2 separate regions of the Homo sapiens genome follow, and region 1 is linked to region 2. The links come from fine-mapping of genetic effects on gene expression. A gene starts in region 2. The other region holds a variant in brackets. All regions are shown on one strand. Distances are from middle to middle.

Region 1 (8,336 bases), 37 kb after region 2:
GTCTTCATCCTGGGTTCCTGGCACAGAGCTCCTAAAACCCTTTGAATTTCCTGAGTGATAGGATTATCTTTTGTTATTCATAATGAGCCCTGTTAGATCACACTGAAACTTATGTTAACAAGGTAACTTGAGATGGGGTCCCTAGATAGCTTCAGAATAGGATGGTCACTAAAAAGACCAAGTGATTGGAGGGTTGGAACTTTCAGCCCCACCCTCTGACCTGTTGAGCTCTATAAACTCTTGAACAATAGATTCAGAGAGCTACTGGGTGCTGGGAGGTGACACACCCAGAGAGGCCATTGAAGCTCTGTGCCACCCTCACCCTACTCCCCCATACCTTGCCCTCTGCGTCTCTTCCATTTGGCTGTTCCTGAGTTGTATCCTTTATAATAAGTCAGTAAATGTAAGTAAACTGTTTTTCTGAGTTCTGTGAGCTCTTATATCAAATTATTGAACTTGAGGAGGGGATCTTGGGAATCCTTGATTTATAGCTGGTAGGTCAGAAGCATGGGTGGCCTGGCCCAGATGAGACTGACATTTGAAGTCAGTGCAGTCTTATAGGACTGAGCCCTTAATCTGTGTCTGCACTAACTCCAGATAGTGTCATAATTGAATTTTTGATACCTGTTACAGGTAGTTAGGCGTGAGTGGGGCAGGAGAGGGCTCTCCCCCACCCACCAGGAATGGCAGGTGACGGTTTGATGATTATCACGTTGCCTCTCTAAAAGCGATAAATTGGCAGCCAGCCTCCAGAGAGAGGCCATTTCTTGATGGTCCATACCCATTGCACTGAAGTGTTGATTGACAGCAGACACCAGAGAGGCAATTTCCCAGGCCTGCGCATTAAGAGACAAAATGGTGGAGTATGACCTTCTGGTGGCACTCCACCAGAAAAGGGAAGAAAGTCTCAGATGGGCATGCATACAACTTCCTAAACACACTGCATGTGCTCAATTCCCAAGGGTAAGGAGGGCACTGTGCATGCAGGCAACACACCCTAAGGGAAGAATCATGGAAAGGGGGCGCAAGACGCCAGAGTTTGCCAGCCTATAAAGTCCTAGGATGATGGTTAAACCAGGCACTTGACCTTCTCAGTGCCCACTTGCGTCCCTTCCGAAAGCACTTTCCTTTCCTGCTCTAAAGCTTTTTAATAAACTTCCACTCCTACAATGAAACTTGCCTCAGTCTTTTTTCTGCCTTATGCCCCTCAGTTGAATTCTTTCTTCTGAGGAGGCAAGAATTGAGGTTGCTGCAGACACATATGAATTTGCCACCGATAACCAGGATATCTTCCACTGGTAACATACCCAGTTGATGTCAGAGAATTGATGAGCATCAGAAACCACCCCAGAGAAGCTATACATGGTAAGGGCCCTAAATTCCCAAGGGAGCATAAACAGGGTGTCTTAGAGTTTTGGTTCAGTTCTACTGGAAGGCGTGATGTACTGAGAAAGAGCTTAGGGTCAACCAGCCACCTTCAAATTAAATGAGACCTACAGGCTCTGAGCAGTTGCCTTGCCCCTCACTGATACAGCAGGAGTTCTTACCTGGGGTTCAGGTATGCCTAAGGGTCTATGCACAGACTTTGGGAAATTGTTTGCTTATGAGTGCTTTTTTCTTGAGGGAAGGCTGAGTTGCTTAGATCAGATTCTCACAAGACCTTGTGACTGACAACTCTAGAAACTTTCCCACAACTGTCAGCAAGGCAAAGTTAATGGGCTAAACATTTTACATATATATAAGTATGTGTACATCGGGGTTGAATGTAGACCCCAATGTATTAAATCCCTCATAATTATAGCTTCAACACAATCCATATTCACAATATAGTATATAATACATTAGGATGTACATTCAAACCTGTTCTTTTTAAAGCCCAACTGGCAATGTGATTCACTAGCTTCAGCATGTGGTGCTTGGTTGGAATGAGCTTAATCAGTTTGATAGCATCATAGACTTTAAGTTAATGAAAACAGAAAGTTTGGAAAAAGACAACACCGTGGGGGAATGATCAGAATGCAGAGGTCGATCTAGTTTTGATGCATAAAACAAAACATGCTGCAGAGATTTGTAGCAGAAAGAGGCACAGGAAATAGCTGTATTCAGGTGACTTTCGGGTGGGAGTGGGGGCTGCTCTGGTAGATACCTTACCTAAAGAGAAGTCTTGTTCTTTTTCCTAAACAGAAACTGATTAACCTGAAACTTCGAAGAAAGAACACTCCTGACCTTGTGGTTCTTGCTGACCTAGGATCAGCAGTTGACCTTATTTAAAAATTAGCCATGTAGAAATGTGGGCAGAGGTTAGAGTCACAGTGTGTCAGAAACGTTGGGAAGAAGCTTAGAAATCTTCTTTTTTTAATTTTTTAATTTTTTTATTCTTGAGACAGAGTCTCATTCTATCACTTACACTGGAGTGCAGTGCCAAGAATATGGCTCATTGAAGCCCCAACCTTCTGGGTTAAGCAATCCTCTCACTTCAGCCTCCCAAGTAGCTGGGACCGCAGACCCACGCCACTACACTCAGCTAATTTTTTAAATTTTGTAGAGACGGGGTCTTGCTATGTTGCTCAGGCTGGTCTCCAAGTCCTGGGCTCAAGTGATCCTCCTACTTTGGCCTCCCAAGGTGCTGGGATTACAGGCATTAGCCACTACACTCAGTCCAGAGAGCCTCTTTGATGGGTTACTAATTGTTGGCCATAAACACAAGTGCTTTTTGGCCCATGGAGTGTTTCAAAAGTAATTGGAGCCAATATTGGCTCCAAACTAAGGGATTTCACAAGATAATAAAGATTTCTATTTCTTTTGAAAAGACTGAAAACATTGCAACACTGGCCTCTAGTGCCCACTTGGGACCACTCAGTGACAGCAGTCCCCCTTAGAAGGTGATGAGTTTGCAGACTATCCTGGGGCCCACTCTTAGGAGACTAGGGATTGTGTTATTGGGGAATTGAGAGGAGCAGAGCTGAAAGACAGGAAAGAGGCCGGGCGCAGTGGCTCACGCCTGTAATCCCAGCACTCTGGGAGGCCGAGGCGGGCGGATCACAAGGTCAGGAGATCAAGACCATCCTAGCTAACACAGTGAAACCCCGTCTCTACTAAAAATATAAAAAATTAGCCGGGCGTGGTGGCGGGCGCCTGTAGTCCCAGCTACTCGGGAGGCTGAGGCAGGAGAATGGTGTGAACTCGGGAGGTGGAGCTTGCAGTGAGCCGAGATCGCATCACTGCACTGCAGCCTGAGTGACAGAGCGAGACCCCGTCTCAAAAAAAAAAAAAAAAAGAAAGGCAGGAAAGAATCGCTGAGATTTTTTAAAGCAGAAAAAAAGGGGTAAAGAGGAAGTACGTAAGTTTACTTTGGGGTCTGGCCAGTGTACTTTCTGTTTTACCCAGGGAAGTGTCAAATTACATATTAGAGCCTTTGTGTACCTCATGGCACCTCATTTGGGCAGAGGGCCGAGTCCACTCCTAGCAGAAATTCAGTAGGCTCCAGGAAAATTCTACTGGGCTCCCTGTGTGTCCTTGGGGAGCCTGTTGGGAATCTCCAACGCTCTTTGGCCTGGAGTTAGTTTTATTTCTCAGTCCGGCATTGCACTCACCCTTCACAATCAGGACAGCTTATTCCTGCTTTTCAGCTCCTTCTTCCCAATGCCAATTCATACCTGACTTCAATATTCACTCCCAGCTTCTAATGGACCAATGTTTACTACTTCAACAAACAGACTCTGGTTACCTATAATGTGTCAACTGCACAAAGTGCTGGGGCATTGAAGACAAGACATGATCCTGCCGGACAGAGGCATAGTGTGACTAAAATGTTTGTGGGGAAGGCTGACCATCTGATTGGGTGATGGAAATCTGTCCACCAGATGGCGCTCAAGAGATTCCAGTGTAACAAAACAACTAGAGAAAAATTAAAAAGGGAAATTTGCCCCGTGGAAGAATAAATAGCACTATGACTTCTATTTCACGTGTACTTTTATGTTCTATTAAGCACCTAACAGTTACATTCTCCAAACCCCTGGATTCTGGGTATCATGTTCAGACAGGGAGGAACACAAGCTTCCACACCCGGCCTCCCTCCCCTTCGACCACCCGTAATCTCCGAAGACAGAGCACCGCCCCGTGAGACTAGGAAAGAACTGGCTATTGGTGAGATGTGCTCTCGGGAGGAAATTCCTCCATTTGAATGAAGGGCTGATTCTTACCTGAGTTCCCTCCCAACTGGGTGTCCTTGGGAAGGGAGGTCTCTCCTGTCCTAGATTCTGTGGCACTGCTCTCTCCCTATCTGCTCATCTTCTGTGTAATTTGATTAGAAATATTTATTTTTTTATGTGCAAGCTCTTCCAACTGTTTATAGCTTTTCACATTTTTTTCTGAATATAATAAGCTCGTTACAAGAAATGCGAATAGATTAAAAATTTAGAAAAAGTATAATTCCTCTATAATTCAACTCTTGGAGATATCCACTGTTGAAAGTTTGGTGTATATTCATCTAGAACAGGGTTTCTTAATCTCAGACCTGTTGGTATTTGCGGCCAGCAAATTCTTTGGAAAGCTGCCCTGTGGATTGTAGAATGATAAGCAGCAACCCTGGCCTCTGCCCACTAGAGGCCAGTAGTAGCCTCACCACCACCACCACCACCGCCTAGTTGTGACAACCAATAATGCATCCAGACATTGCCAAATGGTTTCATATTACACATACGTTCGGGCAACTGGCTTTTCAACTTACATTTTTGTTGTTGTTGTTGTATCTTAACAATAGATTTTGGTCATCTTTCCATTTCAGAACATCTGGACCGATTACATCCTTCAGTCTATTGTATCATGATTTATTTAACCTGGTATCTTCTATGGATGATCATTTGGATCATTTTTAATTTTCTTACTTTTACAAATGTAGCTTGGTGAAAAAAAATATTTAAAACCCAAACTGTCTGTAGCCACTTGTAAGGGAAGAAGAAAGGCATATTTCATAGCAGAGGGAAAACAAGTATCCATATTGCTTCCTTTTACTTGTAAATCTTGGTGGGTAAAAGAGAAAAGGAAGTCTGAAATGTGGAAACCTCCACCCATTTTCTGTACTGTTAAAGCTTGAGGCCAAATTAATGGTCCCTCCAGTAGTCTAGATGTTATCAAAGCTTTAGACATGCAAAGAAGGTCCAGGAATGGAGAGGGTTAGAAAGCAGAATTGTTCTGCATACCGAGAGACAAAGTAGCAAACAAACGGAAGGAGCGGTGTTTGCCTGTTTCTGCTT[G/A]CCAGGGTAATTTTACAAAGCCCCTGATTGTGAGGCCTGCAGCTCTCCAGAAAGATACTTTGACAAAACAGGATAGAGCACATCCCCCATGCCTCTTGTCTGAGTCACTATATTTCTTAAAAGTTAATTGACCCTAGCTAGCCCTTGCCTTTTCTTACACACGATAACATCTCATGGGCTTAGTCACTATGCTTCTACTACCTATAACCAAATGTGCTTTAGTAAACTGTAATCAAATGTACTCTTGCACCCAAACATAGATGTGATTTTGCATATACTTAACCTCCACCACCTACCTACCAATGGGCTGAAACACTGCTTTAGAGGAGTCCGACAGACCTCTCTGAAAGACTCCTCCTGGGCTATGGGCCTCAGTCTATAGTCCTCAGTAAGGACTGTGAATAAAACTTATTTTAATTCTTTAAAAGCTTGATTTTATTCCCCTTGGGTATTTTGACTGTCTCTAAATAGTCCATGGGAAAGCAAATCCTGAAAACACAGAACTGATAAAATGTCAGGAAATGCTTGAGGTGGAGAGAGAAGGTCAAGTGACAAGCAGGATACCAGAGCCCATGGAGAAATGTGGCCAGTGAGAAATTCTTCATGGGAAAGAGGACAAGAGGACAAAGGGCCTTTATGTATGAGAAAGTCTAATATTAATTTTTGAATGAGTCAGTTTGTGTGGTTGTAAAAAATCCACATTCAGATGGCTTGGGAGGTGTTTTTGTTGTTCTGCTTTGTCTTGTTTTATCTTGAAAAGATAGGTAAGGAAAGGGTATTGAATTTCACATGTACATTGGTTCAAGTCAAAAAGACAAGACAGGCTAAAAGAGGTGAGATGCAAGTGGGCTTGAGACAGAACCAGAGCTCTGAGCAAGATAGAAAGAACTGTGAGAAAATAAAACTGCCATAACTCACAGAAATCACAGGGAGGGCAATGTACATCTGACAGGGTTAGGATTCCCAGGTGAACTTCATTTAAATCTCAAGGCATAGGGTGACTGTTGGCTACTGACTCACGCAAATGGCACCGCTATGACATCCTTCCTGAACGTACACCTTTAAGTTTTTGTACAACTTTTTTTTAAATTCATAAGTATGTATTGACTTTCTACCATCCGCAAATGTAGCAATGAGAAAGCTAGTCAATTGTCTGAGATCCATAAAGATGATGTTTGCATTCTTTTAGTTAAATTGCCGAGTCAAAAAACATGATAACTTAAAAATTTGGAAAGCCATTTCGAAATGTTCTTTCTTATCTGGAGATTTGATTTTCATCCAGGCGTTGCTTTTATATTTTATATTTACTAATGGTGTGATGTGTTTCTCTATATTTAATTCTTATCCATTAAAATTGTATATTGATGTATCATGTGAATCCCTTAATTGATTTTTCCCCAAAACATCCAACTAGTTTTTTAGAGCCACAATTTATCCAGTAGTTCAACCTTCCACCACTGATTTGTAGCGCTTCCCTCATGATATTTTAACTTCTCTGTTTTAGTATCTGCTTCTGAGCTATTCTTTTTATTTCATTGATTTGCCTATCTTTTCTTATGCCAGAACCACAATTATTGTTTTAGCTATTATAGCTTTATGACTAAAGCAAGTACTTCCTCTTTCAGGAATAAGACAAGAATGTCTGCTCTCACCACTTCTATTCAGTAGTGTGCTGGAAGGGCAAGTAGGCAAGAAAATAAAACAAAATGCATCCAGATCGGAAAGGAAAAAGTAAAACTAACTCTTTCTATTTGCAGATGACATGATCTTGCATATAGAAAATACTAAGAAATTTACTTAAACTATTAGAACTAATAAATGAGTTCAGAAAAATTGTAAGATTTAAGATTAATAAACAAAGTGGTCCAGGTATATTAGCTTGTGCCTGTAATCCCAGAGCTTTGGAAGGCCAAGGCAGGATGATCTCTTGAGGCCACAAATTTGAGAGCAGCCTGGGCAACATAGCGAGCTTATGTCTCTTAAAAAAAAAAGGAAAGAAATAAAAATAAAAAGATTAACACACAAAATGAATTGTACTTCTACATGCTTTATTAAAAATCTGAAGAAATTAGAAAATAATTCCAGTGACAGCAGCATCAAGAAAATAGGAATTATAAAATAGAAATAGGAATAAATTTAGTAAGACAAAAGTAAGTCATTTTTGTTTGTTTGTTTTTTATTGTTGTTGTTTTAGAGACAGAGTCTCTCTCTGTCACCCAGGCTGGAGCACAGTGGCATGATCATAAATCACTGTAGCCTTGAACTGTGGGGCTCAAGTGATCCTCCAGCCCCAGCCTCCCAAAGTAGGGTAAATCTTGTACTCTAAAAATTAGAAAACATTGTTGAAAGAACTTAAAGAAGATCCAAATAAATGGAAAGACATACATGCTCATGGATCAGAAGACTAGATACTGTTAAGATGACAATTCTCCCTAAATTGATGTACAGATCCAACACAATCCCTAAAAATCCCAGCTGGCTTGTATGCAAAAATTGAGAAACTAAACACAAAATTCATGTACAAATGTGAGGCATCCAGAATAGCCAAAATAATCTTGAAAAAAAGGAAAAAGTTATAGGATCCCCACTTCCTGATTTTAAAATGTACTACAGAACTATAGTAATTAAGACAGTGTGGTGCTGGCATAAAGATAGACTTATAAATCAATAGTTCAGAATCGAGAATCCAGATATAACCCCTTATAATTATGGTCAATTGATTTTCAATAAGGGAGTCAAGACAATTCAATGAGAGAAAGAATAATCTTTTCAAAAATTGATGCTGGAACTGCTGGGTACCTACGTGTAAAAGAACAAAGTTGGACCCTTCCTCATACCATTTATAAAAATTTATTAAAACGGACCAGAGATCTAAATTTAAGAGCTAAAACTATAAAACTCTTAGGAGAAAATATAGGAGTAAATCTTTGTGACTTTGGTGTAGGCAAACCCTTCTTACATACAACACTCAAGATATAAGCAACAACAACAATAAAAATAAATTAGACTTCTTTAAATAAAAAATTTTGTGTTTCAAAGAATATCATCAAGAAAGTAAAAAGATAGCTTAGGTAATGGGAG
Region 2 (8,336 bases):
GGCCCAGTCCTGCTCCAGAGGCTCTACCAATCACTCCCTTGGGCCTTAAGGGTCCATCCTTCTTCAATGTTCTCTCCAAAGCTGCCAAAATGCTCCCCAAACCTTGCAAACCTGCTCCCCACAGGCAACACTAGCTGGAGAGCATGCAGACTCCCCAAAGTCCACCCATTCTTGTAGCCCCTGAACAAGCACAGAAACAGCACTATTGTTTCTTTCATGAGCATGGACTCTCTGGATGGATCTCCCTTGTAAAGATTTATGCTGTAGTCTCTTCACTTTTCCCTCAAACCAGCCTTCTTTGGTGCCAGGGAAACTAAGAGTCCCCAGTCAGACTCCTACAGATGAGCATCAGGTCTCACCTCTCCCAAGGGCAGAAACTGTCACTCAGGAGACCTTGGTCCCACATTAGAACCAGACATCCCACATCAGTCAGAGTTAATGAGCTTCCAAGGCCTCTTACAACCTCAACTACCCACTCTATCCACTCATTCAATCAGCACATATTCACAGACAGCCTGAATCCAACCTACCTCCTGCTGGACCCTCAAAGCCCCTGCACCCAAGCCCCTTCCCTCCTCACGCCACAACGCACCCCCTTCAAAGACTTTGCCCCAAGCTGTCTGCTCCTGTCCTCTACTTATGGAAACCACAGCCCTAACCAAATGCACCCATCTGCTCACATCCTCTGCAGTTTGCGATTAAAACTTCTCCAGTGTCCAGAGATCCTCCCCTCTCTTTGTCATTCCTTGGGTGAGGAAGCAAGTCTCTCTCTACACAGCACCAAATTCTGATGTTCACTGCCCTCTGCGTGTGGCTTCTGTGTCTGCACTGTGGCGGGAACAGGCACTTCCCACACTTCCTACAAGTCCTCCCGCTCCCCTGTCCTTAGCTGCTGTTCAGCTAGAAAACTGCTTGATTTATGGCTGTTCGAGACAAACTGCTAACTCAGCAATGGGAATCCATTGCCATTCCTCAGGTTCACACATGCTTCCTTTCCCAAGGGGACAAGCTTGGCCTAGGAGGTAATTCTAGCATTGCCATGCCTCTGACTTAAATCATAGGGCAAGACAATGAAACTATCCAGGTCATGTTCCCCAGCTATAGGGAAGGCAGGTCTACCCTGTTTTGCACAAGATGTGTGATCCTGATTAATTTGATGGTTATTTAACTTTTGCAAACTAAATCCTTGTGTAAAGGCTGGGAACTTCCTATTTTAAAGAAATTTGAAAAGAAATTTGGCATGGAAAGATTTATTCCCTTCTTAATCTTTCTTCAAGTACTGATATGAAGGTATGGATGTGCTTCAGTAAATTAAATACCATTACCAGTGTTTAGTTTAGTGGTCCTGACCAGCAATGCTACTTAATGAAACAGAAGAAAATACCAGAATGCATCATATGTAAAAAGAGTAAGTATTATTTCATAAAATTTGTGTGTGTCTGTGTGTACACATATGTATGAGTGTTTAAGTTATGACATAAAACAAATTTCTTATTGTGGGTCACAGTCAAAGTTTAAAAGCCACTGATACATGGTAATATTATTTAAATATTTTCCGGCATATTAGGTATATTTAAGATGTGAGTTCCAAACAAGATGCTTTATTATTTTAAGCCAACGTTTTCCAAACTTTTTTGACTGAGGTTCATTGTAAGAAACACATCTTTGTTGGTGGAGGGGTGGGACAGGGTCTAGCTCTGTTGCCCAGGCTGGATTGCAGTGGCGAGATCATGGCTTACTGCAGCCTCAAACTCCTAGGCTCAAGCGATCCTCCCACTAGAGCACCAGGTTGGGAAGAGTGACAGCAACCAGGGCCTCAGCCCTCCACCCCATCCCCCAGTAGCTGAGACTACAGGCTTGTGCAAGATGCTTAGCTAATGTTCGTATTTTTTGTAGAGACAGGGTTTTGCCATGTTGCCCAGTCTGGTCTCAACCTCCTCAGTTCAAATGATCTGCCTCCTTTGGCCCCTCCCAAAGTGTTGGGATTACAGGCGTGAGCCACCGCGCCCGGCCAAGAAACACATTTTTAAGTTGTAATTTCATACTCACATGCCACACACATACAACTACACAACATAAATGAAACAAAATTCATGAAACAATACTTACAACCTTACTATCTATCTGCATTGCTGTCTGATATTTCCTACTTTGTTTTTTAAAATGCTCGTCATGACCCCTTAAACTGAACTATGACTTGCTCCAAGTCTGAAAAGCACCACTGAAAGGGCAGGGAGGAATGATTGTACTTCCTGACCAGGGGGTGAGTGAGAGGAGACCGCCTGCCCAGAATACAAGGCAGTGGGAACCAAGGCCAGGCCCGGTTCTAGCAACGCTGCCGAAGCTTCCTTCAGCATTAAAGAGACTTCAGTGGGGGAGGGCAGGAGACACTATGCCAGACACCTCTTCATGCAGAATAAAAAGGCATAGTGTAGAAATGAGGACCCTTCAGTGGGCTGACCAAGGAGATTAATTGGCATTCTGAACCAAATGTGTTGCAAAGACAGACAAGAAAGCTGAGCCCTCCCAAACAGTCCAAAAATGCCCAGCAGTCAAGTTAGCCAACAAACACTCCTCCTCTCCTGCCAAGAGTTTTCAGCGCCTTTAAAATGTTCTCCAAGTTTCAGCACCAGACTCCCAGCATCCACCCAGCTGATTCCTGACTTCATGGAACAACCCCTCATTATGGATGAGGCCTCCCATTCCTCTCAATTCTGCCCTCATCCCTCCCTATCCCCACCCCCTCACTGGGGTATCAGGTTTCTAATTTCCTTTAGAGAGGTGAAAGCACTTGATTGCCACCCTCTTCCCAACCTGGTGCTCTGGTGGAGGTGAGAGTCAGAGGCTGTTCTGCAGGACACCCCACTGCCTTTCCTGGTTGTTCCCCAGAGCCACTGATACAATTTCACACAAGAAAGGAGGTGACAGATGTGAGGAGCCTGCCACCCGTCCAATCCTACTCAAGTCCTAAGCCCTTGCCCACCAATTCTGTGCATGATGATTGGACCTTTCTCTGGCTTTTCCAGAAGGGGAACACGCAAAGGTTAGGGAGCTGGATGGTCTAATTCGGGGCTATGCTCTTGTGTCATCTGCTCAACTGTCTCCTGCGTATTAGCCATGCTCCCTAACCAGCTTACAAACTTCTTGAAGGCAGGGACCAAATTCTTCTGAGTACAGGGCAGAGCTGGATACTTGGATATAGTGTCATGCCATGGTGACAAGATCCACGCCAGCAGATACAAAGGCAGACAAAGTGAGCGAGGCAGTTTCCAGGACCACGTGGTTGTGGCACAACTAAAGCAACAACAGCAGCCTCTGCGGTCTAAGGGGTCCTCGGAGGAGGAGACGGCTGAAGGTGGTGGACAGGGCTGAGGCGGGCAGAAGGCGGTTGTGCGATTTGGAGGGTGGGGGAGAATATACTGGATCAGGTGAGGTAGAGACTGGGCAGCTGGGTCGACTACAGAGGTCGAAAGTGCAGGCACTGGAGTGAAGAGTTCACAAAATAAATATTCCGGACAAGGCCACCAGGCCCAGCAGGCCTTTTCAAACACGGTGGATAAAGATTTGAAGTAGATTAATTATATATCACAACAAAAGGAGATAAAAATTTGCTAAGACTATAAATCATCTGGGAGCGTTTGGGATCGGATTCTAGTCGAGTCTGGTCACTCCCAACCAGCGATAAACCAAAGGTGGGGAGGAGGCTAAATCTGGACCCCAGCGCTCCCCGCCCGCCTCCCTTTCCTCCGAAGGCTCCCAGGAGGCAGAGGGGCGGCGAAAGCACGGAGCAGTCTTGCATCAGACGAGGGGCGGGTACGTGTTTGCTGCCTTACGAGGGCTGCCTTCCCCTCCAGCTGCCCCAGCAGCCACCAGACTGGTTGGGTCTCCGCCAGCTTCCCCCCGCCCCCCGACCCCCCCAACCCCGCCACCGCCAAGGCAGGCTAGAATCGGCGGGGCGGCCCAGAACTTGGTTGGGAAGAATCGCCAGTCCCTGGGTTCCCCGCAAAGAAGCCACTTTGGGGCCCCTCTCCCGATCGCCCCGCGCGGAGGCGGTTGGGGGTTGGGGGAGAGGCGGCGCGAGGCTGCCAGAACAATTGCGCGCTAAGGCGCTGGGGCGCCGCGCTGGCATCCCGCGCTGGCATCCGCGAGCAGCCTGCAGGACCAGTTGGAGCAGCCCGCACTTTGCAATGCTAGCGGAGGCATGCCAACGTGAAAGACGCGGTTGCAAACTAAAAGAAAAGTTTGCATCTCGCCGCCGTTTGTTCTTCCCTCTTTCTGCCTCCTCCCGCCCCCGTTCTTCTCTACCCCCCAATCTCAGGAGGCCCCGGAACTAATTGATACGGGGTGCATGCGAGGGGGGCGCGCTGGCCTGGGCGCAGCCAGCCTTTTTCCATGGAGGTTGCCCTAGAGACCTCAATTTTCTCTCTCTCGCCTTACCTGCAGCTCCGCTATCAGCTCCTCTTTGCTAAGGTTCTGCTTTTCCACCACCTGCAGCCCTCCATCTTGCAAGATCTTCCGGCAGCAAGGGTCCAGGCTGTCACTGATGAGCACTTTCCGCAGATTTGCAAAAGCCATTGCTGGAGTTGGCCTCGGAATCGGCCGCTGTGAGTAGAAGTACCTAAGCCAAGAAGCTGCGGTTCGGCCTGGCGCGCTAGAGTAACTGGGCAGTATTCTCCAGCTCCCGCTCCCCAGTCATCTCCTCCTCCTCCTCCTCTTACAGTCTCCTTTTGATTGGACGGAAATACTCAAACTCTCCGCGACTCCGCCTCCTCCTCGCGGCTCTGAGGTTGCCAAATCCCTGCCCGCTTTATTATCCTCCCGCGATGAATTTCTCCATCTCAGCCAAAGCTCTTACCTACACCTGGTGAGCATATAAAAAGCACAATTTACGCTGACTAGCTGATGCATATCTGAAATGAACGGAGAAATACACCTCATCCTGAGAGAAAAACTTCATTTTCACTTTTCCTCCTAAGGATTCATTTATTAATTCCTTACGAAATTTTTTTTGAGTGGGTAAATGTGCAAGGCACTGTGCTAGACGTTGAAGGGAATTCGACTATCAAAAAGAAAATGTCCAACAATGATAGACTGGATTAAGAAAATATGGCACATATACACCATGGAATACTATGCAGCCATAAAAAATGATGAGTTCATGTCCTTTGTAGGGACATGGATGAAATTGGAAATCATCATTCTCAGTAAACTATCGCAAGAACAAAAAACCAAACACCGCATATTCTCACTCATAGGTGGGAATTGAACAATGAGAACACATGGACACAGGAAGGGGAACATCACACTCTGGGGACTGTTGTGGGGTGGGGGGAGGGGGGGAGGGATAGCATTAGGAGATATACCTAATGCTAAATGACGAGTTAATGGGTGCAGCACACCAGCATGGCACATGTATACATATGTAACTAACCTGCGCATTGTGCACATGTACCCTAAAACTTAAAGTATAAAAAAAAAAAAGATACATCCTCTTTCCTCTGGTGGCCTAACATCCTAGAGTACCAAACACACAGACTTGGAAAGTTACGTAGTGAAAAGCAATAGGAAGCTTTCTGAGACACCAAGGAGCTGTGATTAATTTCAAATTAGTGATGCAATGAGAATTATGAGTTTATAAAAGAGCGGGGACCTGGTGCATTTAAACTAGGCATACTTTGTTAAAGTTATTTATTTCCTTTCCCTCCACTTCCTCTCTAATTATGAAAAAGAAGAAAAGGAAAACGGGATGTCAGTGTGGTTTAATTGACCAAGGAGGCACTTCTCAGCTCTTAACTCTTTTATATTTAAACCCCATAACCGACGTGCTCTCTCATGCCCCATTTTACAGAAATGTCAGAAAATTCAATTTGGGATTAAAGTCACCTAGAATCAGAAGCAGAATCAGAGATGCTCATAGTTGAATTAGAATTCAGCTTTATGGACATATCCAGTCCAACTAACCATTGTGTGTTATGTCATCCTGAGCTATTCATAACTCAAGTGCTAGATCCTTATCCTACAGAACTATGCAATATCAATTCTATAAAGTAATGAAAATTCTATACAGATAATTCCTGGGCACAAATCAGATTTTTAGACACAATGTCCTCAGTGGGTAAAAAAAAAAATTGTCTATCATGTTTGCTTGTTCGGATGAATTGTTATTCCTACATTCCAAGACTCATGAGTATTCAAATTCTCTGTCTCTCTTGAAGTGCCCAGCAGTACCCTGGAGTCTAGGGACAGACAGGGGACCTATCCCAGGAGGCTTAATGGAGGGTCTTGGGAAGCATCCATTTTTGTAACTGCTTTCCTTCAACTCCTCCCAGGGCTCACTAACTGCTTCCTTTCAGTGTAGAATCTAAACCCTGCTATCATTAACATGTAATCCCACCCTTTCACACCAAGTCAAACTTCTTGGATACTGTCTGAACGCACAACCCAGAGGGCCTCCTAAGCCTGATCACCTGTTTTCTTTATTTATTATTTATGACCCACCTACTTTTTAAACAGATCCAAGCCACACAATAAAAGACACTTCTAAACCGTTAAGAAAATAATTAACAGATTAAGAGTCCATTTCCAAGTGAAAAGGAGGGTGTGTGATAATTGTTACATAAGTCAGAAATGTTCCCTCCTTTTAAATTTCTATAGAATTAACTTCAAGTTATCTCACAGTGCCTTAAGCAATATATTTATGAACTTTTCATGTCTTGTTCCCCATGAACTCTCATTTCCTTAAATCAGAGACACGATTTTGTATACCCCCAGTAGTGCCTAGCACCATGCCTTCCACATCACAGAGGCTCAGAAGAGGTTTGATTCAAAAATTAATTTATCCAGTACCTCCTATGGGCTAGGCCCTGTGACACATAAGACACAGCCTTCTTTCCTCAAAAAGAAAAAAGAACAACATTTTAAGAAGAGTACCCCGGCATGGTGGCACATTGCTGTAGTCCTATCTACTTGGGAGGCTGAGGCAGGAGGATTGCTTGAGCCCAGGAGTTCGAGGCTGCAGTGAACCATGATTGTGCCACTGCACTCCAACCTGGGCAACAGAGTGAGACCTGTCTCTAAAAAATAATAAAAAAAATTAAAAAGGTATAGTTTAAGAATTATAAATAAAGGTGTGCTGGAGGGCTTTGGGAGCAAGGAGGAGAACCATCTCCTGAGGTGCCAGGAGGATTTCCAAGCAAGGTTGCCTTTCAGCTAACCTTTTGAAACTCATTCAAGGCAGCTACTTTGAGAGGCTCAAGGATACAGAGATAGGTAAAACATAACCTGCCTTGAAGCTGCTCATGGTTAACTGCCTAATCTTGAGAGCTGAATATGAATTAGCCGGGGGAGAAGAAATGACATTTCCAAAGGCTTAGAGTTGTGAGGAGTTGCAACATGTTCATGGCTTCTCTACCATGGCTGTGGGGGATGCCAGTGGGATACCAGGAGGTGAGACTGCAGAGGGGCCAGGGGCTGCTCATGAAGTGTCTTGCCCTGAGGAGGAGTTTAAACTTGACTCCAAAGTTAGTACAGAGGTACCGAGTGATTTTTAGAAGCGATATCATCAAATGTGTTGCTGGTCGGGCTGAGACCTGATACTGCCAATACAGATATATCCCTCACCACTACACCCCAGAATCTCCAACATCAATTGCAAACTAAGGGTTTTTCTTTGATAACTGAGGGTTGGAGTTGGGGAAATTTCTCCCTCTCCCTGTGTTATTGCATCCATCCATAAAACAGGAACTTTGGCCAGCTTGGAAGTAGTAGGAAAACAGTTCTGCCCTTCTCCTCAGACCCCTCCTTCTCTCCCTTCCTCTGGCCCCAACCCCTTCAGAAGAGAAAACCACTCTGATTAGTGAAGTTTGGGGAAAAGGTCCTAGTGCGTGCCCAGGCCAGCCCCTTTTGGCTCTCTCTTTCGAAGCTGGAAGCCTAAAATAATGTACACACTCCTGCTTCCTTGTGTGTAGTGAATCTGTCAAGGCAAGACCTACCCCTACCTAAGGTTGCAAGATGTCCAGCTGTTCCGCCTGTAACTCTGAGGATAAAGTTAATGGGGTTAAGGGGAGGAGAGTAGGAACTCTCTTTTTCTGCTTGGAGACCAGCTGTGATATCCAAACTCGAATCATAAGAAATAAAATATGTAACAAACCTGCATGTCGTGCACATGTACCCTAGAACTTAAAGTATAATAAAAAAAGAAATAAAATGATATTTTAAGATGCAGAAAATGAACTGTCATCCGTAAAACAGGCATATCTTGATTTGAATTTCAGCTTCTCAAGTTATGAACAATGTGATTTTGGGCAAATTACATTGCCCCCCTAAGACTTAGTTTT

Evidence for each region.
Region 1: its variant is fine-mapped to the expression of PHGDH in esophagus mucosa (GTEx, PIP 0.95).

Annotation. Positions count from the first base shown.
Region 1 is chr1:119,671,268-119,679,603 of GRCh38, reverse strand. LOC124904390 (a long non-coding RNA gene) reads right to left here. Exons shown (of 2, transcript XR_007066508.1): 2 at 8,090-8,336. Among named protein-coding and RNA genes, the nearest start is that of ZNF697, 27 kb to the right of the region's middle. RefSeq lists enhancers at 1-369, 3,477-3,978. The variant G/A (reference allele first, on the strand shown) is at 5,256.
Region 2 is chr1:119,708,262-119,716,597 of GRCh38, reverse strand. PHGDH (phosphoglycerate dehydrogenase) reads right to left here and starts at 4,664. Exons shown (of 12, transcript NM_006623.4): 1 at 4,438-4,664. The coding sequence starts at 4,575. LOC105378937 (a long non-coding RNA gene) reads left to right here and starts at 4,752. Exons shown (of 3, transcript XR_947757.4): 1 at 4,752-4,864. RefSeq lists a silencer at 4,012-4,111 and enhancers at 4,252-4,341, 4,392-4,671, 4,812-4,861, 4,343-4,872.